Regions from separate parts of the Homo sapiens genome. Here regions 2 and 3 are each linked to region 1. The links come from fine-mapping of genetic effects on gene expression. A gene starts in region 1. Each other region holds a variant in brackets. All regions are shown on one strand. Distances are from middle to middle. Region 1 holds the start of HNMT (histamine N-methyltransferase). Region 2 overlaps HNMT (histamine N-methyltransferase). Region 3 holds the start of LOC107985948 (a long non-coding RNA gene).

Region 1 (8,190 bases):
TATAGAAACTCTGGAAGACAACCTAGGCAATACCATGCAGGACATACACATGGACAAAGATTTCATGACGAAGACACCAAAAGTAATTGCAACAAAAGCAAAAGTTGACAAATGAGATCTAATTACACTAAGGATCTTCTCCACAGCAAAAGAAACTATGAACAGAATAAATAACCTACAGAATGGGAGAAAATTTTTGCAAACTATGCACCTGACAAAGATCTAGTATCCATTATCTATAAGGAACTTAAACAAATTTACAAGAATAAAAAAAAGACATGAAAAAGTGGACAGAGGACATGAATAGACACTTTTCAAAAGAAGACATACATGCAGCCAACAATCATATAAAAAAAAGCTCAACATCACTGATCATTAGAGAAATGCAAATAAAAACTACAATGAGATACCATCTCACACCAGTCACAGTGGCTATTATGAAAAAGTAAAAAAATAACAGGTGCTGGCAAGGTTGTGGAGAAAAGGAAACACTTATACCCTGTTGGTCAGAGTGTAAATTAGTTCAACCATTGTGGAAGACAGTGTGGCGATTCCTCAAAGACCAAAAGACAGAAATCCCATTCAACCCAGCAATCCCATTACTGGGTACATACCCAAAGGAATATAAATTGTTCTGTTATAAAGACACATGCATGTAAATGTTTATTGCAGCACTATATGCAATAACAAAGACATGTAATCAACCTAAATGCTCATCAGTGATAGTCTGGACAAAGAAAATGTGACATATGTATATCATGGAATACTATGCAGCCATAAAAAATATGGGATCATGTCTTTTGTGGGGACAAGGATGGAACTGGAGGCCATTATCCTTAGCAAACTAATGCAGGAACAGAAAACCAAATACTGCATATTATCACTTATAAGTGGGAGCTAAATAATGAGAAAATATGGAAACATTAGATGGGAACAACACACACTGGGGCCTATTGAAGGTGGAGTGTGGGAAGAGGGAGAGAATCAGGAAAAATAACTAATGGGTACTAGGCTTAATACCTGGGTGGTGACATAATCTGTAAAACAAGCCCCAATAAAACATGTTTACCTATGTAACAAATCTGTGCATGTACTCTTGAACTTAATTTTTTTTTAAAAAAAAGCACAATAAGTGAAAAATAAAGAGAATCTCAAGTAAGGTGGAAACAGTGGAGACGGAAAGGAAGTCCTCACTGGGATCCACATGAAGAACTGGCTCTGTTGGAGAATATTTGACAGCAGGCAAGGGAGGTGATGGTCTCAGAAGACCAAGTTTCAGTTAAGGGAGGCCTTAACAGCAGCTTTCCAAGAGAAAGTCATGTCAGGAGTATTCCTCAGCAGAATAGCAAACAGAGACTCTTACTAAACTTTTATTCAATAGATGAATACATTATTGGCCATTTTTGGTTTTGGTTAAAGTGAAACAAAAACAGATAGATGTTACACATGAATGAATGAATGATTTGGGTTGAGCTCTAAAGAGAAAAATGGAAGATGGTAATAGAAGCAAAAGTTTGTCAGAGCCCATCTGAGGAAAGGGAAGGCTGGTTGGATAGAGATGTGAGTAAAGAACCAGCAAAGACCTTATCTAAGGATGAGTGAAGGGCACAGGAGCTAAATCAGGGCTTGGCCAAATAAGGCCTGTGGCCAAACCCAACCCTACCAACCTGATTTGTGCAGCCCATGAGCTACCAATAACTTTTATGTTTTTATATGGTTAAAGTAAATTCAAAGAAGGATAATATTTCATGACATGTGAAAATGATATGAAACTCAAATTTCAATGTCCGTGAATAAAGTGACGACTGTTTTTGTCATTTTATATATATATATTTTTTTTGCAGAGGGACTGGCTTGCACTTTTTAAACATTAGTTATATTATTCTCAGTACAACCCTATAAGATAAAATTCATTCCCATTTTACTGATGAGCAAACTGCAGCTTATGTTTCAGCCAAAGTCAGACAGTTCATTAAGGGCAGAGTCATCCATGGCAATCTGCCTGTCCAGATATTACACTTTCCCCCGGGGTAAAAGCACTGGCTCTAAGAATAGTGAGAACAAAACATACTTATAAAAGGGAGTTGGGGGCTGGGAATGGTGGCTCACGCCTGTAATCCCAGCACTTTGGGAGGCCGAGGCGGGTGGATCACTTGAGATCAGGAGTTCGAGATCAGCCTGGCCAACATGGTGAAACCCTGTCTCTACTAAAAGTACAAAAATTAGCCAGGCGTGGTGGCGGGTGCCTGTAATCCCAGTTATTCGGGAGGCTAAGACAGGAGAATCACTTGAGTCCAGGAAGCGGAGGTTGCAGTGAGTGGAGATCGCACCATTGCACTCCAGGCTGGGCGACAGAGCGATACTCTGTCTCAAAAAAAAAAAGAGAGTTGGGAAGTGTTTTGAATGCTTAGAGGGCAGCTTGGGAACTCAATTAGAAGAAGGGACGGTTTAAGCAGACATATTTCTAAGAGACTTATATGAGTTAACTCATTTGATCCTCAGCACTCCTCCATGAGTTGGATGCTATTATTAACAACCCAATATTAGATAAAGGATGACCTTCTTAAAGACCTCTTCCCAGGAAAAAGACTGTGTGTGGGTACTCTGAAGCTTTGGCTCTTCTGGTGGGGACACCACTGGGTTTCCAAAGGCTCATCCAGCCAAGCGAAGTATCTATGACCTCGTCGTGTTCAGCGCGCTTAGGGAAGGATTCTATGGACTGCACTTTTACCCTGGTGTCCTGCATTCTTGCTCCAAGACTTCTCTTACCACTCTCATTCCCCTAAATGCAGCTTCTGACACCTTCTAGCTACGAGTTCTTGGGCTCCTCCTTCGTGACTTCCTTTTAAGATAATTTCTGAGTTACAACAAATCAGCATTTGAAGAAATGCAGCAGATAAGTTGAAAATTCAAGTGCTGAGGAATGTAAAGGCCCAAAACAATCCCGTAGAAAGCACAGAGGCAGATGACAGTCTTCCGTTAAAGATTTCACTGCTGTAGATTTCTGAGAGTGCTGTGTAGCTGTCCTCTTTATCCTGGTGTTTGCCACTTCGAACAGTCACTTTCCCACTTGGAACTTACTTGTGGCTTTGCTGACAAAACAGGAAGTGATTTGAATACAGTTTGTTTTTATGACCTTTCAACCTCAGGAATTTGAAAAGTTTTAGCAGTGGATTTACAGCCTTGCTTAATACTTCTATTTCTTACAAAACAACCGTATAGGGGTTAAAGTATCAGTGCAAAGTCCCGTTCAAATATTGACTCAGTAATGAGCTCTACAAGCCAGCCTTTGTGGCATGTTAAATTCAAAACAAGCTTAGCATTTTTTTTTTTTTTTTTGGATAGAAACTGGTGGGGGTGGGGAAAGAAAGAGGGAACTGGGAAGAGAAGGAGGGGAACTTAAACCTTGCTTCCTGCTCTGTCTTTCTCAGAAAACCAAATATGGCATCTTCCATGAGGAGCTTGTTTTCTGACCACGGGAAATATGTTGAATCTTTCCGGAGGTTTCTCAACCATTCCACGGAACACCAGTGCATGCAGGAATTCATGGACAAGAAGCTGCCAGGCATAATAGGAAGGTAACAAAAGGGACGTTGTTGTCAAAGGGACAAGCCTCAGACTGGCTGTGCGTCAGTGATAGATGGGTCTCGCTCAGCCTCGCAGGCTGGGCACAGGGATAAGGGCGAATTACTGATAGCAGCTCCCCGTCGTCCCCTCCTCGCTGCCCTGCCCTGCCTTTCTCCTGCAGTGCTTTGGTTCCACGTTTGCTTTGAACACTCAAAGGCTCCCATTTGTGTTGTATTTCCAGCTGCATAGAGATAAGCGTTAACCATTTGAAGGCACAAATCCATGTTCATTTGGGAAAAGATAAGATGCTAATCTTCGAACTCAGATTTTTCAGCCCTCCTCCAAATTTTACATCCCAAAAAAGTCCCAAAGGGAGTCTGGTATGCTTTTCATTAGAATCAAATATAAATAATTGCCAAAGTACGATTTGCCCTGAGGATTGAGTGCCTCAGTTCTCATAATATCCATTTAAATTAATTTTCCTTATCCATTGTTATAGTTATCACTCTCTTCCTCAAAATTGTCTTTTTCTTTCAGCTTAATATTAGCAATGTGTTCCTTAAAAAAAGAACCATTTTCCCATTATCAGTGAAACTCACTGGTTCCTATCCTTCTTGCAGAGTTCTTTTTTTTGGGTGATTAATGTGTTCAATTTGTGCCAGAGCTGATAAGCATTATGAGAGTAACAGATTCCACATGCTAAAGATAATCAAATCACCTATCTGGGGGTGATTTGCTGTAACTCATTCTACTTCAGGAAATAATAATGGAAAACTGGGAAGAAATGACTATGGATCCAATTTGCAAACAGCAAAGGAAAGTGGTATTTTATCTTTTGCTGAATTTCTCTATTGCAGGCCTGAAATTCTTTCACCAGGGCAGTACCTATGTCTGACCAGAGCAGGCATTATTAGATGTACATAAAATTTTATTTCCTTTTCTATTTAACATGATTCAGATTTTAAATGTTAGCTTTCAAAAAATAGGATATTATATATTAAAAATTAATATGTAATAGGATAAGGATGCAAACATCAAAGCAAATAGCAAATATAGAGAACTTCTTACCTAGGAACTAATTATAGTTAACCTCTTTGGGTTTCTTTGCTCATTTCTAAAGTTAAAGGTAATGAGTTAATTTCTCAATTCTTTTTCAGTACTAAAAGTATTTGCTCATGTCTGTAGCTTACCAGATCCTTGGTTTTCTTCAGCCATACACAGTTTGGTTTGAAGAGGTACCGTGGATGGAGATAACATAATCGATGATGAATGACCCCTTCCTTATCTTCAAAGTTTAAATCTAACTGGAAATATTATAAAATCTGTGAAAGACTGAAGAATTTTTAAGGGCACACTGTTTGTCTTATAACAGTAGTATATAGTTAGGAATGATCAGATTCAGTGTCATTTATTTTTTTCCTGAAGGTAATGTTTGAAATAAGATTTAGCTGAAGGACTTTTAAAATTGTTACTTAGAGTTGTCTATAAGTTATGAAGTACCAAAATGTGATTAGGATACTCTTTGTGTATGTTAGGGCAGGGTTTGTTGAGTTTGTGGCTCACTGTGCTAATTGAGTGTGGAGCGAGCCTATTAAATTTTTATTAAAGCAAGACATGCCATATTTTAAAACATCAAATGGTTCTAAAGTGTGTGGGGACTATAACAAACCCCACCCACTCCATTCTTGATTCCCACTCTCCGGAAGCAACCACTTTCAGCACTTTGAAATCTTTTAGTTATTTATGGAATTTTCTTTCATAATTCAAAATAACATGTTATTGTTCTATTTCTTCATTTCGCTGTATTAAAATAGCTAAGTAAGCATGCATATTTCCCACCCTATCATGTCACTATATGTAGTCAAAATTTTGGTTAAATAATTTGAGTGTTTATGTTATTTTGCCTATGTACATATTCTTAATAATTGAGCAATATATTCGACTATGCTTATATTTCCTTTTACGTACAACTTTTTGTTCTCCCTAGAGTTGACTATTGCCTTGATTTTGGTTTCTTTTCTTAGTTCTCCATGTACCTATTACTATTTTGATCCCCAAGCAGATATATTAATCTCCTCTCAATATATGCAAACATATCAAGGAATCTGTTTATTTTACCCCAAGGGAACAACTTTTCTGAAGCCCTCTGTTCTTTTTTTCAGTTTAGGAAGATCTGCTTTGGCCTGCTATACAACTATTAAGGAGGGAATTTATTTCACTTTCTGAGAATCATTTTCTTTCTCCATTATTTGATTCCCTGATTCTATATCTCATGCCTTTCTTTTCTTTGTTTCCTCGGTCCTTTGTTTCCTGAACAATTCTTTAAGAACTTTAAGAGTGAACGAGAGGTAAACTTTTTGAGACTTTGTATGTTTAAAAATCCCTTGGTTCTATGTTAATCGTTTGACTGGATATAGAACTCTATACTGAAAATGGTTTTGTATAATAGATCTAAAGGTACTTTTCCACTGTCTTTTAGATACCAGAATTGCTGTTAACAAATAAAATACTGGCCAGATGTGTTGGTTCACGCCTGTAATCCTAGCACTTCGGGAGGCTGAGGCGGGAGGATTACTTGAGCCTAGGAGTTTGAGACCAGCCTGGGCAACATAGCAAGATCCCATCTCTACAAAAAAGTGAAAAAGTTAGCTGAACAAGGCGGCATGCACATGCTACTCCAGACGCTGAAGTGGGAAGATCACTTAAGTCCGAGAGATCGAGGCTTCAGTGAGATATGGCTGAGACACTGCTCTCAGCCTGGATGACAGAGTGAGAACCTGTCTCAAACAAGAGAAAAAAATAAATCAAATGCTACTCAAAATTCTCATCCTTGGCATGTGGAATAACTTTTACATTGCTATGTGTTTTGTTTTCCCTATTTTGAACTTTTTAGAATCTTCTTACGTCTAGTATTCTGAAATTTTAAAATACTGAGCTGTGAAATGGTTCCTTTTTACCCATTTTATGGGTACTCCCTGGGCTATTTCAATTGAGATTCAGATCCTTCAGTTATGCGGAACTTTGGTAATCATTCTTCACCACTGTTTTCTTTTTCTGGAACTTTTATTCATCAAATACTTCCTGGATTGATTACCTAATTTTCTTATATTTCCAGTTTGCTACAACTTTCCTCTTTCAGCCCATGTATTAACTTTTTACTATTATATTTTTAATTTCCAAGAATGTTTTCTATAGCATTCTTTTCATCATTCCCAGATGTAATACCTTCTTATTCATTACAAAATGTTCCTCTGCTCTCTCTGCCTCTTTCCATCTCTGTTTCTTATGTTAGACAGCTCCCCAACCACCTAAAGAGCCTTGGTTTTCTATTCAATCAAATAATGAGGCACTAAAAGGTAGTCAGATTCTCTTTGTGTAAGTCAGGGCAGGGTTTGTTGAGTGAGTAGCTCACTGAATAATTGAGTGTGGACTCAGCTCTTTCCTGGGAGATCCTCAGATATAAAATCATGTTAACTTTATCACTGAGATGATTTGTTTCCCTATAGAGGAATTCTTCAATCCCCTATTTGAGGGTAGATGGTGGGGCAGGGCTTGGGGGCAGGAAAAATTATAGTAAATAACTATAAATAGTAAAGTTGGTTATTGTTGTTGCATATAAAACATTTAAATCCTTGGCTAGAAAATAGTAAGTTTTCAATAATTATTTGATGTCATTATAATATGTGAAATGGGATGAATAATAGTATCTAACTCATAGAGGAATTTCAAGGATTCAAAGAGTTAATTCACATAAATCACTTACATGTACCTAGAATCATAATAATTGCTAATATATGTGGAGTGCTTGTCATGTGCAGATACATTTCTAAGAGATTTGCATGAATTAAATCATTGAATCCTCACAACTTCTCCATGAATTAGAAACAGTTATTAATAATCCTACAAGAGAGATGATATTATTATCTTATTTCACAGAGATGTCAAATAACTTGCTCAAGGTAACATAACAGTAACCTGGGATTTCAACTTGGGTGCTCTGCTTCATAGCCTCCCTATGCTGTCATAGATGTAAGCATTTTAAAGAATGAACAAAAGGTGTAGATAGAAATGGATGTGTTAGGACTCAGGATTATGAGTTGGAGGATAATTAGAATTGAAGAAGGCAAATCATTTATAGGTGTTCTCGACCCTAGACTTTGCAAGATTCCTTTAGAACCTTACTTCAATTTTTGTTCCCATCCTGTGACTGAGCAGGCTTTTTGCACTGTAGACAAAACACAGTTTTGTTTGCCATCCCAAAGTCCAAAGAAACAAACACCATCCTTTTCCCTTCATGGTTCTCCTACAGCAGTCATCTCTTTTCCTTCTCTCTTTCACCCTGTTTCAACAGACTCTAGATCTGCTTCCTCATTTTTGAGCTCAGTTTTAATCCCATTGCCATCTGACTTCAGTCTTCAATCTTCTTTTACAACTGCCATTACTAAAGACACTCGTATTGCCAAATTCGATGGAGATTTTTCCTTTTTTAAGTAGTACACTCTGCTGCTTTTGCCATGACGACGGGCTTTCTCTGCCTCCAATTACTCTGGTACCTCTCTGTGCTTTATTTCTTTTCTTCTCTGTCTTCTTTGTATATTCTTCACAATCCAGTGATCTTTAGAA
Region 2 (8,190 bases), 37 kb after region 1:
ATTTATGAAATGTTCTTTTTTAAAAACTACTTCCAAAACTAAAATTCTGCTAATGATATTTTATTAAAAATGAACAAGTTAGGACCAAAAAACGAAAGCAGATGGACACTAAGTCAACAGGTATAAAATGGAAATGTCCCTGACAAACAAGTATGGTCACCCTACTTATGAGGTCAGAAATAGATTTTACGTTCTAATTGACTCTTAAGGAAATAGTTGCATTATCACCTCTTCTTAAACTTAATTTATTTTTGTCAGGAATCCAGCACACATGAGCTTATACTCTAGAGGCTGTTATGCAAACCAATGGTTTCCATATGTCAATTGTGATTCTAGCATTGTGTCCTCTATCAGTGCCCCAGGGAGAGGGACTGCCTGGCTCTGAACATGTCCCAGACTGTGCTAGATATATTTTGCCAACCAGGCCAACCTGAAATGTCAAGGTCCATCTTTGGAGGAGAGCTCATCAAGCCCTGAGGGGATATAATTGCATTTCAGTTATCTTTTTCAAAATGTCGAATTTGAGATCCTCATAATTGATAATTTTTCATTTAAAATGTATGGCTAGGTTAATATGAGGCAAGAACAGAAAATTTTGGTCTCTAGTCTTTTGGGGGCAAGCTGGAATCTATTTCCCATTAGCCCACAGCTATTCTTACCAGCCTTTTGTCTTAGTTGTCTTTTTTTCCCTTCAGAATAGTTGCTGAACAGAAGAATAAAAGGCTTTTCATGTCTTTTTAGCATTTGTGATCTTTCTACTTCTTAGTTGAATGAGTTAGAAGAATAAACATTGTAGATTTAGACAAATGTGACTTAAACTTCAGGTATATCAATATCCCTTGAATGTCAACATACTCAAATCACCTAATCCAGTTGGGAATATTAATAATATCATGGAACTTGCTGTCAGGATTAATGAGATGTTCCAGGTAAAAAGCCTAGCACAGTGTTTGGCAAATAGTAGGTGGCCAATAATAAATGGCAGCTATAGTCATCAGTGAAGAAATACATGATTTCAAGTAGGTAGGGCTGGCTGTGAAGAAAATTGTCACATAAGTGACTTCATACTCTATTTCAGCTTCCTTCCCACTCTCCCTCCTTCCCTCCACACACACCATGTACGCCATCTCCTATTGTCAGTACTTGGGACTCTCATATGCACCTGGACCACTGTCTTTTCCCAGTCTAGCATCTTCTGTTCCTGGTTTATCTTCCTCATCTCTTTCCTTCCAGACCTCCCAGTCTTATGACCTCTGCTTTTGCTTCCTGCTATGTGCAGCCTTGGAAAGTTTCTGCTAATGTCATTTATGCCAAATGTTAAAGACTAACATCATTTTCCTATGCTAATCTTGCCAGGAGGTATTTCCATTTTAGTGAAGGTCAACATCATAACCTAACTGAATAAAAGTGCAAAACATAAGTTGGAGGCATCAGCAAGAGGGAGAGAAGAGATATTTTCAAATAGATGTACTCAAGATAACAATAAAAATAATGAACAGCTAACATTTATTCACTGCCAACTTTATTTTGCACTGTGCATTATATGCATTACTTCATTTAACCCTCACAACTAATAAATTAAGTACTATTATTATTTTTATTTTTCTAATAAAAAAAAAAAAGAAGCTTGGAGAGGTAAAGCAAATTGCCCAAAGTCGTATACACCGAGTAAGTGAAGAAGACAGGTTTAAAACTCAAGTCCATCTGACTTATTGTCATCTCTCTTACACTAACCCTTACAGGCTGAATTTTCACCAGGGCAGGGATTCTTGCTTGGAAGTCCTGCCTTGCTCAATATTCTAAGAAATCTAGACTGCTAGTAGTTCCAAATATACTCTTTTATTTTCTGTGTGTGCATCTGTCATCTTGTCCCCTGTACCTGCAATCCCTCACTTCCCCACAGTTTCTGGGCTAACTCCCACTTACCCTGGGAGTGACAGAGTTCATGAGTGATCTTCCCCCATGAAGCATCATCACTCTGGCATCATCTCTCGTCCTCTCCCCATATGTTCTCTTCCCTCTTCCTACCTTGATTCAACTGAGCCAGGGCTATTTCTGTGTCTGTGAACAGGTAATAGTGTTTATGAGGGCAGATATCTGACATGTTTTTCTTCTTTATTTTACCTGACATATGCTTGTACCCTTTATTTAATCTGACATTTTTTTGTACTCTTCTGGCCTAGCCTACTCTGCCAGTTCTGAGGTGCATTTTTTTTTCGTATTTTAATACCTCTGATATTGTTATGCTCTCCAGTTGATAAAAATCTTAAAATTTTAATTGACAGTGGCTTTTTTCTAACTTGGTGAAACAAAAATAAGGGTTAATTTCCTTCTACAATCAACAGCATCTTTGATTTGATGAAATATAGTGATAGATGTTAAAGATCATGTAAACGAATGGATGGCACTCACAGCCCTCCTTGAGTCACATTACTATGCCTACTTAGAACCTAGCTGCCCTGCATCATGGCAGGGCAGCAGTTGAACATTATTCTTTATTTATGTTAGGCTTTCCTAGTAAAGGTAGGGCAGATAATAAATCAGCTAAAATTGTTTTTAATCATTTCTTGCTGGAATGATGTGACCTGTCCCATATGTTTATCTTCTAGGTGAAATTGATCTTCAAATTCTCTCCAAAGTTCAGGCTCAATACCCAGGAGTTTGTATCAACAATGAAGTTGTTGAGCCAAGTGCTGAACAAATTGCCAAATACAAAGGTACCTGTAACTCCTGGTCCTCTACACCAGATCCTATCCCAAAAGACTTAACTCAAATTGTTCCCTTGAATGATTAAAAATATAGTTACTGTGGTATGCTTTTCACAAGCTTATTGGGAGAAGAACTGAATTAGTTCTTGGCAGGCATGACTAAACATCTCAAAATGTGAACAGTGAATAATAAACTCCCTTTTCTATTAACACTTCATCCATTCCCCAGTTGTCATCAATGATTACCTTTTGATGTTTATGCTTAAGTACAGATTCATTCATTGATCCAGAATTATTTAAACCAACCTTAAAGAGCTTATGTTTAGTGGGTTACAGTAAAAGTTCACAAACTTTTCCTGGCAAAGGCCAAATAGTAAATATTTTAGATTCAGAAGGTCAATTCAGTCTCTGCCATAACTAATCAACCTGCCATGTGCCACAAAGGCAGCCAAAAAGAAAAATAGGTAAACTAACAAGCATGGGTGTGTTTGAATAAAACTTTATTTGTAAACACTAAAATTTGAATTTCATATCATTTTCACATATGAATTAGCATCCTTCTTTTGTTTTTTTAAATCATTCAAAAATATAATGACGTGAAACATGAATGGCAGTGACACAAAGTCAGGAAGTAGAACGATATATGTTTTTAGCTTGCGGTTCATACAAAAATAAGTAGCAGGCTAGATATAGTCCCTGGACTGTAGTTTGTCTTCTCCTGAATTATACAAACATATCTGTTTCCAATTCACTTTCCATTGATAAAATTCACCAGTTGATTCTTCATTAATACTAAGACAATATAACCTATTCTGCCCAGGGTTCTTGTAATTATTTCTTCCTGACTCTTTCTTTCACCTCTAATTTCATTAAATACTAGAAACCAAAAAAAGCAGTATGAACTCTCTGGTCTCCCAGACATAAGAAAGAAAAACGTTCTTTCTATCTGTTTGTATATAACATTGATTGCATTAAAATTCTAAATGGAAATGGTTTCCACATTTGCAATTAAAATTGATGGTGTGTCACCTCTTCTCTGTATTTTAGAGCTTGTAGCCAAGACATCGAACCTCGAGAACGTAAAGTTTGCTTGGCATAAGGAGACATCATCTGAATACCAAAGTAGAATGTTGGAGAAAAAGGAGCTTCAAAAGTGGGACTTTATTCATATGATTCAAGTAAGAAATATGTATTATAATATATACTCAGAAAGAAGACTTTTCAGA[A/G]TATATATATAATGAATATCTACTATTCTAATTTTTAAAAGGTAAATGAAAATCTTCTGATTTCTAATTTTACAAGTGACCATGATCTGCCCAAATAAAAGGTAAAGATGTTTATTATACTAAGATTCTCTTTAACATTCCAAAAACCAGTTTTCTCTAATCAAAATACCTCTACAAGTTATCCATTTTTAAAAATGTTGGCTTAATTCTTATTTCTTTTTTGAGATGGGAGTCTCGCTGTGTCATCCAGGCTGGAGTGCGGTGGCATGATCTTAGCTCACTCTAGCCTCAAAATCCTGAGCTTAAGCAATTCTCCCACTGCAGCTTCCTGGTTAGTTGAGACCACAGGTGTGCACCACCACACCCAACTAATTTTTTATTTTTTGTAGAGATGGGGTCATACTATGTTGCCCAGGCTGGTCTTGAAATCCTGGGCTCAAGTGATCTTCCCTCTTCAACCTCCAAAAGTGTTGGAATTACAGGTGTGAGCCACTGCACCCAGTCTTTAATTTATTTTTATATCATTGGATGTTTATATAGAGATTTGAGAATGATAGCATCATAACATATTCTCTAGTGGCTCTAATGGTTTGGGTGGACCAATGTCCCAGAGTGTTTCTGTAGTGGACATATGGTCGAAGGGGCAGGTTAAATGATGCCTCAGTTCAATAAATTTTTACTTCCATTATCCAGATCCGACAAACTGACTCATACATGTTATAGAAAGGGAGTGACGCAAGAACAAAAAACCAAACACCGCATATTCTCACTCATAGGTGGGAATTGAACAATGAGAACACATGGACACAGGAAAGGGAACATCACACTCTGGGGTCTGTTGTGGGGTGGGGGGAGGGGGGAGGGATAGCATCGGGAGATATACCTAATGCTAGATGACGAGTTAGTGGGTGCAGCGCACCAGCATGGCACATGTATACATATGTAACTAACCTGCACATTGTGCACATGTACCCTAAAACTTAAAGTATAATAATAATAATAATAAAAGAAAGGGAGTGACTATTGAGTAGATAGCATGGGGCTGGATTTCCAGAGATAACTAACATTTCTGAATAGCATAAGGGATGTATGGGTTTTGGAAGTTGGTTACCAACGGGAAATGTACGTATTTTGGCAATACCACTTGATTAACGACAAAACACTATTTTTCTTCCTGGTCTACAATGATAATCACCCCAAAAGAATAAACTTACAAGAAGTCAAAGGAAGAAATACTCCAATTGTGTCATATACAGGCAATTCTATGTCTCTGCTTCTTTAGCTGATGAAATCTTTTGCCTGTCAGGTAGTACTTATCACTGTCCAGGATGCCAAGATATTTCTCTACCAGACTTGCTTTTGTTCCCACTTCCTCACATAACTATTTCATAACTCCCCTGTCTCCTTACCACTCCTGCAATCTCTCCCAGACCATTCGTTCTGAGCCAATGACCTCACTTCATAATGTATAGAGAAAATAGAAACTGCCAGATACTCATTTTTTACCCTCTAACTTTGCAAACATAACTGCATTTGTGCATCATCTCCTTCTTCCATCTTATTGCAAAAACCTCCTCTTATCAAAAACCACTCCCTCTGCTTAACCCTGGATCCCATTCTTTTCTCTGTTATAAATATTGTGATTTCAGGAATCAGCTTCTCTTTCCTATTTCTCTTAAAACTTCCATGTTTGTTCCTTCTTTCTTATAACAACTCTGTTTCCCTCTGAATCTCTATCCTGTTCCTCTCTCTCCATCTCTGTCTATGCCCCATTTTTCTGTGCAGCGTCTCTGCCTCTCTATTACTCATTATAGTCCTCACACTCTTATGATACTTTTACAACCTCACTGTCAATTCAGAAAATTTCACTGTCTTTGAGAAAAATTTAAGGTATCTTCTATGGCCCACTTCCACATTTCTAGCCAGGTCATATCGTAGATTGTTAGCCATCATATTGATTCACTATATTTGGGTACCTGCCTATGGTCCCTGTGGTGGAAAATGTGGAGTGTGGCCCCTAAGGCACCATGAGCCATGCACAGGTCAGGTCCATTTTATTTCATTCATTCATATGAAAGAGGCACAGCTAAAGTACTTTTCCTTTGTGCAATGAATTCTCTAAGGACAGGCTATATGGAATATTGAATTCTTGTCCAACAAAGATGAAGATGAGATATAAGAAGTGTCTATGGGGGTGGGGTCCAAAGATGCAAGCCATGGGGAAAAATTTCCCACGTCAATGCCTAAGTCCAAGTTCTGTGTTGGGTGGAAAGGCCTGTACTTCACTAGAGATTGATCCAGAATTATTAAAAATGGGTGTCCTGACCCCTAAACACCCTGTGACCAAGCAGATAACCTCATGCTTTATTTAGTCCAACTTCCTACAGAATCTGTCATCATCAGAGGCTGTCACATTTTCTGTGATTTTAAAAAAGCATCTGTGAGCATATGGAGAAGCTAGTGCAAAGGGCTTAATTGTAAAGTAACGTTCCATGAAATGGGGTCTGTTTTTATGGTGCCAGAACCATTTTCTCCCAGAAGAACTGCAATTCACGAATTATAGAATAGGCATAGGATTCATGTCCCCATGTGGAATGGTGACTAAGTGTCTCCAGCTATAAATGTCTGTGCTATGGAAGCCAGAAAGAGTAAATTTAAAACCATTTGACTCTAGTCGAACAAATACCATACTTTTCCATTTCCCCAAATATTTTCTCACATTATTGTTCTATGTCTTCATGCAACGTCTTTAATCTTTAAATTTCTTAAGTGTTTTCTTGGGTAAAAATTCACTCAACTAGAAAATCAAACTTTCTAGGAGTATCTAGCCCAAGCAATAAAGACTTCAACATACAGAAGCAGCTCATTTCTCTTTTTCCTCCTTTCTAGATGCTGTATTATGTAAAAGACATCCCAGCTACCCTGAAATTCTTCCATAGTCTCTTAGGTACCAATGCTAAGATGCTCATTATTGTTGTGTCAGGTAAGTTATTTTCATTCAGCCTGAATTTTAAAACAGCAATAATACACGTATGCATGGATTCCTGTGTTTGAAAGAAGCTTATATATTTTGTCTTCATTATGAAATTCTTGCCTTGGCCTCTAATCATAGCCAATTAATTTTCACAGTATTAGGGAAGTCATTCACAACAGTTCTCAATTTAGAAGGTATAGTGGAATTAAACATCTGTCTACTTCTTTCTTTTGGGAAAATATGTCTTTGTCTTCTATATATGAATCCTTTTTATATAGCTTAAATTCAACTGACAAAAGATTTTAAATGAGACTAAAAATAGTAAACATTTATTTTACCTACTTCGTGTCATTTGAGTGTTTCTTTTCCCTCTATGATGTTTATTAATAAATAAAGGTTAAACTATTTCAGATGTCATCATTTTTAATTGACTTGCATTCTTAGAGCCATGATCAACACTGCTTGCTATAGGTTTTTTCAAATGCCTATCAAAAACAGTTCATTTGTTTTGTTTTGTGTTGGTGTTTTATTTTCCAAGGAGGCATGTGAGCATGTCCAGTTGCTGCCAGGGATTTAGTAAGTATCACACAGAGAACCCAAGTAAACATTTTTAGATAATGAAACATTGACATTGTTGAGGACAGTATTTATTACTTCTTTCATTCAGCAATCTTTATGGATTTTCTACCAGTACTTACAGGTTGATTTTAGATACACAGCAGACTCTGTCTTCCTAAGGTTACACCAGACCCCATACTTTAACACCGTATGTCACAAAATTGACTTGTTCTTAAATATGAAGAATTGCTTTAAAGATGGCAAGCATGGTTATAGCTTGTAATCCTGGGTTTGACCTTATGTGAAAGTTTGGCAATAGAGAGCTCCTGTACACAACCTCTCCTGCAAGGGAACATTTAGATATACTATTTTTATCTCTATTTAGTTAAAAATACTCATTTATGTGGGAGAGGTCTCATTTCCCATTTAGAAGGGCTTATGGAAACTGGACTCATCCTACTAACCTCTCTCTGAGCTAGTAAAGCACTATAAACTGCATTTAGAATTGCAAAGTAAACTTAGTTATCAACATTGTAGGCAGCCTATTCTTGATTATATTCATCAATCATACAGAAAAAGTATTGTAGACGGAAATAACAATTCATTGAGAAGTCATGTATTTTTTATCTTAGAATATATTTCATCTCAATAGTAGGTCTAATCTCTTATTTATATTTGGCTTATTCTAACATATTTTCAGAAATTAAGTATCTGAGCACCCAGA
Region 3 (8,190 bases), 80 kb after region 1:
CCATGTAAAATGTGTGTCTGATAATGCGAGGGAAGTCTGACATTTGCTCCATAATTTAGTGAAACCTGCAGTAGCTTTTGGGCACATTGTCTCAGCTGAATGGAGCCGGTGTGGGGCCTTGGGTTCTGGAAGGCTGTATCTGGATGAATCGTCATAAATAGCACATTTGGAGATGAGCTGGTGATCTTCTGGGTTGGAGCCAGCAGCAAAGGAAGTGAGGCCACTGAGACACCAAACAGTTACCCAGGGAAGCTCTCAGAGGGTCTTTAAAGAGGGCCTGGCCTGTGCCTCTGGTCATACTCTCTGGGGACAATGGGTGGATGGGGCTGCAGCTTTCCCTATTACAAGATGTGCTAAGAAGGAAGGGAAACCTATCCTGAACACTGACAGCAGAAAATTAGGCAGTATTTTGCAGTCAAGAAGGGGTAACAGTAGAATCCATAATTTTTACAGTGACCATCCTAATCTCTGAGTCCCTCAGTTAAGGACTGGATTCAGTTCAATCTAGTGCTTCATGATTCATGCAGGTAACACATTATTTCTCCAGCAACTGCCAAGTGCTAGCCCCTGTTACAGACCAGAGACACAACAAGCAGATGACAAGCAGATAATTAGATGGTGTCAGGTGGTGAGAAGGAAGAGAATACATCAGGTTAAAGGGTATGGAGGTTAATGGAGTGGGCAGTTGTAGGAGTGGGGTGCACATATTGTCAGCGGAGACCTCATTTGTTAGGTACTATTTGGTAAGCTCAGATTTGACACACTCTTGTTGGTTATGTGCTCAGGGCTAAGTTCTAGGGGCTTTTACACTGTATGTCAGAGACTGTCTACAATGCATCACTCCATTGGCTAACTTAGTTGACTGTGTTGATCGGTTGGGGCCCCCTTTCTTTATTTGTGTCCTTCTGCAACAGCATGCAAAACAGGATTTTTTCCAGTTGTTCGCCCAGGGATTTTTAAATGCCATGTTTTATTGTTCCTTATGAGTTCAATGTATGTAAGCCCTGCCCGCCTAGTGAGAAAATAAGCTCTTTAATGTTGAGAACTCAGCCTTTTAGTTGTCTATTTCCCACCCAGCAGGAGTGCCTTTTTAATACAGGTTAACACAAACTTCAAACTGTAATATGATTTAAAAATTTATATTTTGGTACTTTATGCTTTGAAAAATTGGCCTGTGTATCATCCCAATAAACCTGTGTGGTGAATAATATCTATAACATCCAACTGTGTGGTATTGGTCAAATTCATTCATTCATTTATTCATCCATTTAACAAATATGATTTCAGTTGCATGATTAATTTCCTTGGAATTCAACTTTCTCATTTAAAATTTAGGGACATTAATGCTTGTTTTGCATAATGTGAAAATGATACAGTAAATAGGTTAAATAACTACCACAATGTACATAATAGGTGCTCAATAAATAAGAGCTATTTATGAGTTCAAGCATGTGTAGGATGATGAGTGGGAGCAGGAGATATGAGACGTCATGCAAAAGAAATAGCTAGAGGCCAGATCGTGATGGACTTAAAAACCTAATTGCAATGCGGGTCACTTGAAGTATTTTAAGCAAGGAAGTGGCATGATCATATGATTATACTGGTGACTGCATAGAGAACAGATTAAAAGAAGACAAAAGCAGAAGCAGAAACACCATTTAGATGGGTGTTGCAGTGGTTCAGGTAGGGAATGATGGTGGTTTGGCTGTGATAAAGGAGATGAAGAGAAGTCAGCGGACACAGAAGGTATGGTTCAACAGTGGAATGGACAGGACTTGCTAGTGAATTGAATCTGAGAAGTAAGGGAAAGGGAAGAGACTCCCAGCTTTCCAAGTTAAGCAATCAAATGTTTTCTGAGGGAAGTAACACTCAAGGACAAATAGGTTTGCCACTTAGTTTCCACACATCACACCTAGATTCCTAATGACAGCATCCGCCTAAAGCTCAGAAGATAATGCTGAGTGAGAAAATAGATTTCCTGACTTTAATATCCCATGGTATTTAAAGCCATGGGAGGCGATGAGATCACCTGGAGAGAAACTGAAGTGTGAGAAGAGAGGAGGACTCTGGTGAGATCTCTGAAGAACTGCACAGCTTCAGGTTTGCATAAAGGAGGAGAAAGTGAGGATTGGCCAGCGGCACAGAAGAAAAATCACAGATGTTAGGAAGAGAGAGTGATTCAAAAGGAGGGTCATTTTTTATTCTGTCAAAACCATCTGAGAGGTAAAGTTAGTTGAGGGTTTAGCAGAACAGAGGTCATTGAAGACCCTGATAAGAGAAAATTCAGAAGACAAGAGGAAAAACCAGTTTGGAATAAATTTGAGAATAAAGGGGAAATAATAAAGTGGAGCTATTTTTCAGGAAAGAATTATTGAGACCTACTACATTCCAGGCACTGCTACAGATGCTGGGACTGAGCAGTCAATTGACAGTGTCTCAAGTTACTTCTGTTGTAGAGGGAAGAAAGACAATAGACATACAAATAAATATGTGATATGTCAGCTGGAAAGAATAATGCAGCATTAAGCCAGACTTAAAGGGACTTAAAGGAGTGCTGAGTGGATATGGTTGTTGTCTTACCTAGGGAGGTCAGAGAAGTTGGCTAGGGAAGTCCTCTCTCATGATGAGGTGTCGGAGCACAGACCTATAGAAAATGAGAGAGAGCATGCCCCATGAAAGTATCTGTGAAGACAATAGCAAAGACTTGGAACCAACTCAAATGTTCATCAATGATAGACTGGATTAAGAAAATGTGGCACATGTACACCATGGAATACTATGCAGCCATAAAAAAGGATGCGCTCATGTCCTTTGCAGAGACATGGATGAAGCTGGAAACTATCATTCTGAGCAAACTATCGCAAGGACAGAAAACCAAACACCACATTTTCTCACTCCTAGGTGGAAACTGAACAATGAGAACACTTGGACACAAGGCGGGGAACATCACACACTGGGGCCTGTCGGCGGGTGGGGGATGGGAGAGGGATAGCATTGGGAGAAATACCTAATGTAAATGACGAGTTGATGGGTGCAGCAAACCAACATGGCACATGTATACATATGTAACAAACCTGCACGTTGTGCATGTTTACCCTAGAACTTAAAGTATATATATATATAAAAATCTGGGAAGAGTACATTCCAGGCAGAAGAGGCAGTACATACAAGAGACCTGAAGTGGCTTCATGAATAGCATTGATAAGAAACAACAATGAACACCCAGTGTGGCTTGAGTAGAATGCATGAAGTAAAAAGGGGTAGTAGGTGAGGTCAGCGTGGTGAAAGGGGGTGGTAGAGTAGACCATGTCTGGCTTTAGAAATCTTTTTTCAAAGACAGTCTTTCCCTCTAAGTTGCAAGGTAATTAGTAGGTTTTCATCAGAAGCTGCTGCAAGGTGGACCAGGTAGAAGCAGAGAGAGCCATTGGGGACTATCGTTGTCATCCAGGTAAGAGATAATAGCAGCTTGCACCAGATGGTAGTAGTCAAATGGTGAGAAAAAATCAAAATCTGAAAATATTTTAAAGCTAAAGGTAGTGTAATTTACTAATAAACTGGATGTTAAGTATGAGTGATGGAAAAAGTCAAGGATGACTACATAAATGATTTAGGAAGTTGACCGTGAAGAAGGGTTCAAAATAGTAGACAATGGCTGGAAGGGACAGGGAACAAGGTGAGCAGTTTAAGAATGTGTTTGCCTGCAAATGAGAAGAATCCTGTATTAGTCAGCTAAGCCTGCTGTAACATAATACCACAGGCAGGGTGGTTTAAGAACAGAAATGTGGCCGGGTGTGGTGGCTCATGCCTGTAATCCCAGCAGTTTGGGAGGCCAAGGTGAGTGGATCACAAGGTTAGGAGTTCAAGACCAGTCTGGCCAAGATGATGAAACCGCATCTCTACTAAAAATACAAAAATTAGCCAGGCATGGTGGCAGGCGCCTGTAATCCCAGCTATTTGAGAGGCTGAGGCAGGAGAATCACTTGAACACAGGGGGCAGAGGTTGCAGTGAGCTGAGATCGCATCACTGCACTCCAGCCTGGGTGACAGAGTGAGACTCCATCTCAAAACAAACAAACAAACAAACAAAAAAACAAGAAATTTGTTTTCTAACAGTTCTGGAGCCTGCAAGTTCAAGACCAAGATGGCAGCAGGGTAGGTTTCCTCTGAGGCCTCTCTCCTTGGCATCCAGGTGGCTGTCCTCTTGCTGTCTTTTCACATGGTCGTCCCTCTGTGCACGCACATCCCTGGTGTGTCTGTGTGCTGAATCTCCTCTTCTTCTAAAAACACCAGTCTTATTGGAATAAGGCACATCCTAATGCTGTCATTTTAACTTAATAACCTCTTTAAAGGCCCTATATCCAAATGCAGTCACATTCTAACAGTAAG[A/T]CACTGTGAGTTAGAGCTTTAACACATGGATTTTGGGGAAAACATTATAAAATGTGTATCAATGTGATTTTGACTTAGTAGCCATAGAAGAAGATGAGGAATGACATGAAAGTGAACCACTCTCCCTCTTTTCAGACTGAAATATCATCTAAGATCAGGATTTGCAGTGACCCACGTGGCAGTCAAGGGAGAGAGTGTCTTGCAGCAAGGCTTTTGGATTGTTCTTGGACATAAATGGTGAATTATACAAAGAGGAGTTTTTGGAAATATTTGCAGGTTTGGTATGGAGGCCACATGTCCTTTTAAGGAATCAGGTTCTAGAAATTGAAACCTACAGATTTTGAACTTGCCACTTGTACCACACACATTTTTCTAAACCTAGTCTCAGATTGAGAAAGAGAGACAGAAAGAGAGATCAGGAAATAAATATAATAAAAAGTGAATGAAAGTGCAATTTTGACCTAAGGACCTTAAGCAGAAAAACAGGTTACTCAGCTACTCCTTTTTTAAATAACGAAAATGAAATGAGAGAAAGTAGATGGTCATTATTATTACTATTATCACAGCTGTCATTCCCTCATTGATGCCTCGTTAAGATGGATTTTAGTAGATCACAATCTAATATACTACTATATTGAAGACACTTTTTTAAAAAAGCAAAAATAAATCAATAAAATGTTAAAAGACCACTGATGAAATCATGGAGTGGATTAATTAGGGTGTAATATTCAGATCATATTCTTGAGTTGGGCATTTTTTAAAATGTTGTTTTTCCTGTATTCATGTTTCTAGGGCGTTGGCTCTGACTTTAATCTGTCAGGATTCAAACCCTAACAGATCCTCATTCGAACATTTACCATGTGACTCAGGACAAGTTATTAACCTAAATTCCAATTTCCTCACCTATAAAATGGGAATAATGAGAACACTGATCCCAGAGAGCCACTATGGTGATTCCATGAGCGATGTGGGTGAAGTGCTGGGTATGGTGTTTGGCATAGAGCGAGTGCTAAATAAATAGTTTTAAACAACTGCTAGTGAAGGAGAGAAAAAGAGAACCTGAGTCATTAAGGTGATGTGTGAGTAGGATGCAAGCCAGGACAGAAGGTTACAGGGCCATATGTGGGTACAAATGGCCATGCTGAAGTAGGGACTCTGATATATTCCTCATTCTTACTCGGGGCAGTGATGAAAAAGGGAGAGCCTTGTTCAAAAAGCTGGACAACAGTGTCATTACAGGGGAAAGCATTTACCTTTTTTCCATGTACATCCTTTGTTCAACCACATGCTTCAAGGTTGCACATTCAAAACATACCTTCAAAGATTACAGCTTTTAGAGTTTCAAGACAGCAACAGATGAGCATTCAACCATGTGGGGGTTCTTCATAGGCCCTGTTTTCCTTGTTCTACTGTAATCCATAAATGGTTGGAAATGCAGACCACTGAAGAGAATTAATTAGGACTTTTCAGATTTAATGGGAACAATTCAAAGAGTCTAAGTTTCTTTTCCATCCAGCGTGAGTTTCCTATTTAGTGAAGTAAAGCTCAACTTTTATCAATAGTTTCATTCTCTTGTGGTATGTAAAACCTACACACACTCAGAGGCACCCAGAGGAAACTACACTCTGAGTTATTAGTAAATTCTCTCCAAGTGAAGCTGCCAAACACAGAAGCTTAAAACTAGATACAGCTTCTCAGGAAGCAGATCAAGCCCAGACTCTGCCACTGAGATTGAATTAACAGGAGCTCACAGGGCTCTCTTGGATAAGCCACATGGACCCAGGGTTGTTAATTTGGGAGGTTTATTAAATAGCGGATTAGGATTGAAAGCGAATGCATCAAAATGTAAGAAGCCCTAGTTTGTTGAAATGAGAAAATTGATACTGAATGAGGTTATCTCTTGAATCTGGGCAGTCTTGTTTTGGCTACCCCACTGCTCAACTCCTAATTAGTAGGGCAGAAAAAACAAGTCCACGTAGGCTAAATGGCCAAGAATAGATGAAAATCAGCTAATAATATAGTAATTAGGAACAAAGCCAAAGCAGGACCTGCAGATGCCCAAAGTTGAAGAGATGCAAAGAAAAGTGTTGCTATCCAAAAAAAAAAAAAAAAAAAAAAAGTACTTGTCAGAACAAGTTTTTCAACAGCATATACTTTTAGACTAAGATTGAGGATGAAGGTGACAGGAAAATGATTAGCCCCATAGTTAGGATTACTTATATTTAGAAAAATATTTGCAAAGCTTTCCTTCTCCTTTCATATCATAGCGAACACTGAAATTGTGTTGTTTTCCAACATAGCTGCTAATATTTGCAAAGTAATAATTTTGCAAAGGAAACAGCTTGAAATAAAGCATGCCTGATGCTTAGGAAGAAAGCAAAGAATGCTATCTTTGAGTAGTTACTATAGGTAGCTTTTGATCAGAACGAAGTGGCACAGAAACATCCGATTCCAGTCTCACTGGTGCTGTTTACTCCATGTGACCATTATCAGGTCTCACTTCTGCACTGGCTTTAGGATACTTCTACATCATATGAAAGTGCTGTACAATTTCCAAGTTCCTTCTAAGTCAAACATTCTGTTATTCTTCCCTCCAAAAGATCCTTCAAGACAATGGAAGACTAAATAGCAACTAGAACTTGCTTTGAAGTAAGGCTGACATTATCTGCAAACAGATTAAATCACTATGCTTATATTTTATACTGTTATGTATTTTCCCATTGCAGCTTCACAGTCTTCCCCAGACCTTATCTGTGTATATAGGCACACATGCATAACTGCCTTAACAGTAAAAACATGGTCAAAAATGTAAAAGTTCAGGATGCAAGTTTGATGACACACTTTATTTCTCCAAATTGAAATAAAACTAGATCAATCCCCTGGAAGAAGTTTAGAAAAGTGTTAGCCATCCTCTTCCCCTTTGATTTCCATGTCCAAAGATGGAGAAGCTGCCTTTCTAATCCTTCTGTTTCAGTTTCTTTAGCCAATGGGATTTTATTACCAAAAAATGTCACTGAAGAATCTGGCTGATAATGTCCAGCACTGCAGTTTTTCACTAGACCAATAATATAGTTTGGCTGTGTCCTCACCCAAATCTCATCTTGAACTGTAACTCCCATAATCCCTACATGTCCTGGGAGGGACCTGGTGGGAGGTCATTGAATCATGGGGGCAGGTTTTTCTCATGCTATTGTCATGATAGTGAATAAGTCTCATGAGATCTGATGGTTTTATAAAGGGGAGTTCCCCTACACAAGCTCTCTTGCCTGCCACCACATAGGAAGTGACTTTGCTCCTCATTTGTCTTCAGCTATGATTGTGAGGCCTCCCCAGCCATGTGGAACTGTGAGTCAATTAAACCTCTTTCCTTTATAAATTACCCAGTCTCAGGTATGTCTTTATCAGCAGCATGAGAACAGACTAATACCACCAGCATCCATCAGTGATCTTTCAAGGGAAGAACAGATTGGAAGTGCTTTTTGGTGCTGCATTCAACTCAAGTGTAGCCTACACCTAAGAAGTTTGCAATGTGGTTCCAGAAACCCTTTATAAAAATAAATAAGTTAGATGGTGCAATAACTCTGTATTCCATTAAAATCCTTTAACCTCTCTATGCTTAATTAACAAAGGGCAGGAGTATGAGACAAAATAATAATCACTATTTAGCTCAAGCCAACACATATTTGCTGAAATTCTGCTCCATATAAGCAACTTATTTTTGTTTGGGGAATACAAAGATGAAACCAACTCTGACTTCTACAGAGAAGGAAGGCTGCAATGGAGATGATGACAGTGTGAAACTGT

Evidence for each region.
Region 2: its variant is fine-mapped to the expression of HNMT in whole blood (INTERVAL, PIP above 0.99).
Region 3: its variant is fine-mapped to the expression of HNMT in whole blood (INTERVAL, PIP 0.93).

What each region holds. Positions count from the first base shown.
Region 1 is chr2:137,961,051-137,969,240 of GRCh38, forward strand. HNMT (histamine N-methyltransferase) reads left to right here and starts at 3,423. Exons shown (of 6, transcript NM_006895.3): 1 at 3,423-3,578. The coding sequence starts at 3,442.
Region 2 is chr2:137,998,309-138,006,498 of GRCh38, forward strand. HNMT (histamine N-methyltransferase) reads left to right here. Exons shown (of 6, transcript NM_006895.3): 3 at 2,610-2,717; 4 at 3,756-3,886; 5 at 6,824-6,917. LOC107985948 (a long non-coding RNA gene) reads right to left here. Exons shown (of 3, transcript XR_001739719.2): 3 at 7,538-8,190. Among named protein-coding and RNA genes, the nearest start is that of HNMT, 38 kb to the left of the region's middle. The variant A/G (reference allele first, on the strand shown) is at 3,935.
Region 3 is chr2:138,040,983-138,049,172 of GRCh38, forward strand. It overlaps LOC107985948 (a long non-coding RNA gene), which reads right to left and starts at 2,756. Exons shown (of 3, transcript XR_001739719.2): 1 at 2,581-2,756. It overlaps LOC105373636 (a long non-coding RNA gene), which reads right to left. Exons shown (of 3, transcript XR_923367.2): 3 at 4,498-5,828. The variant A/T (reference allele first, on the strand shown) is at 4,387.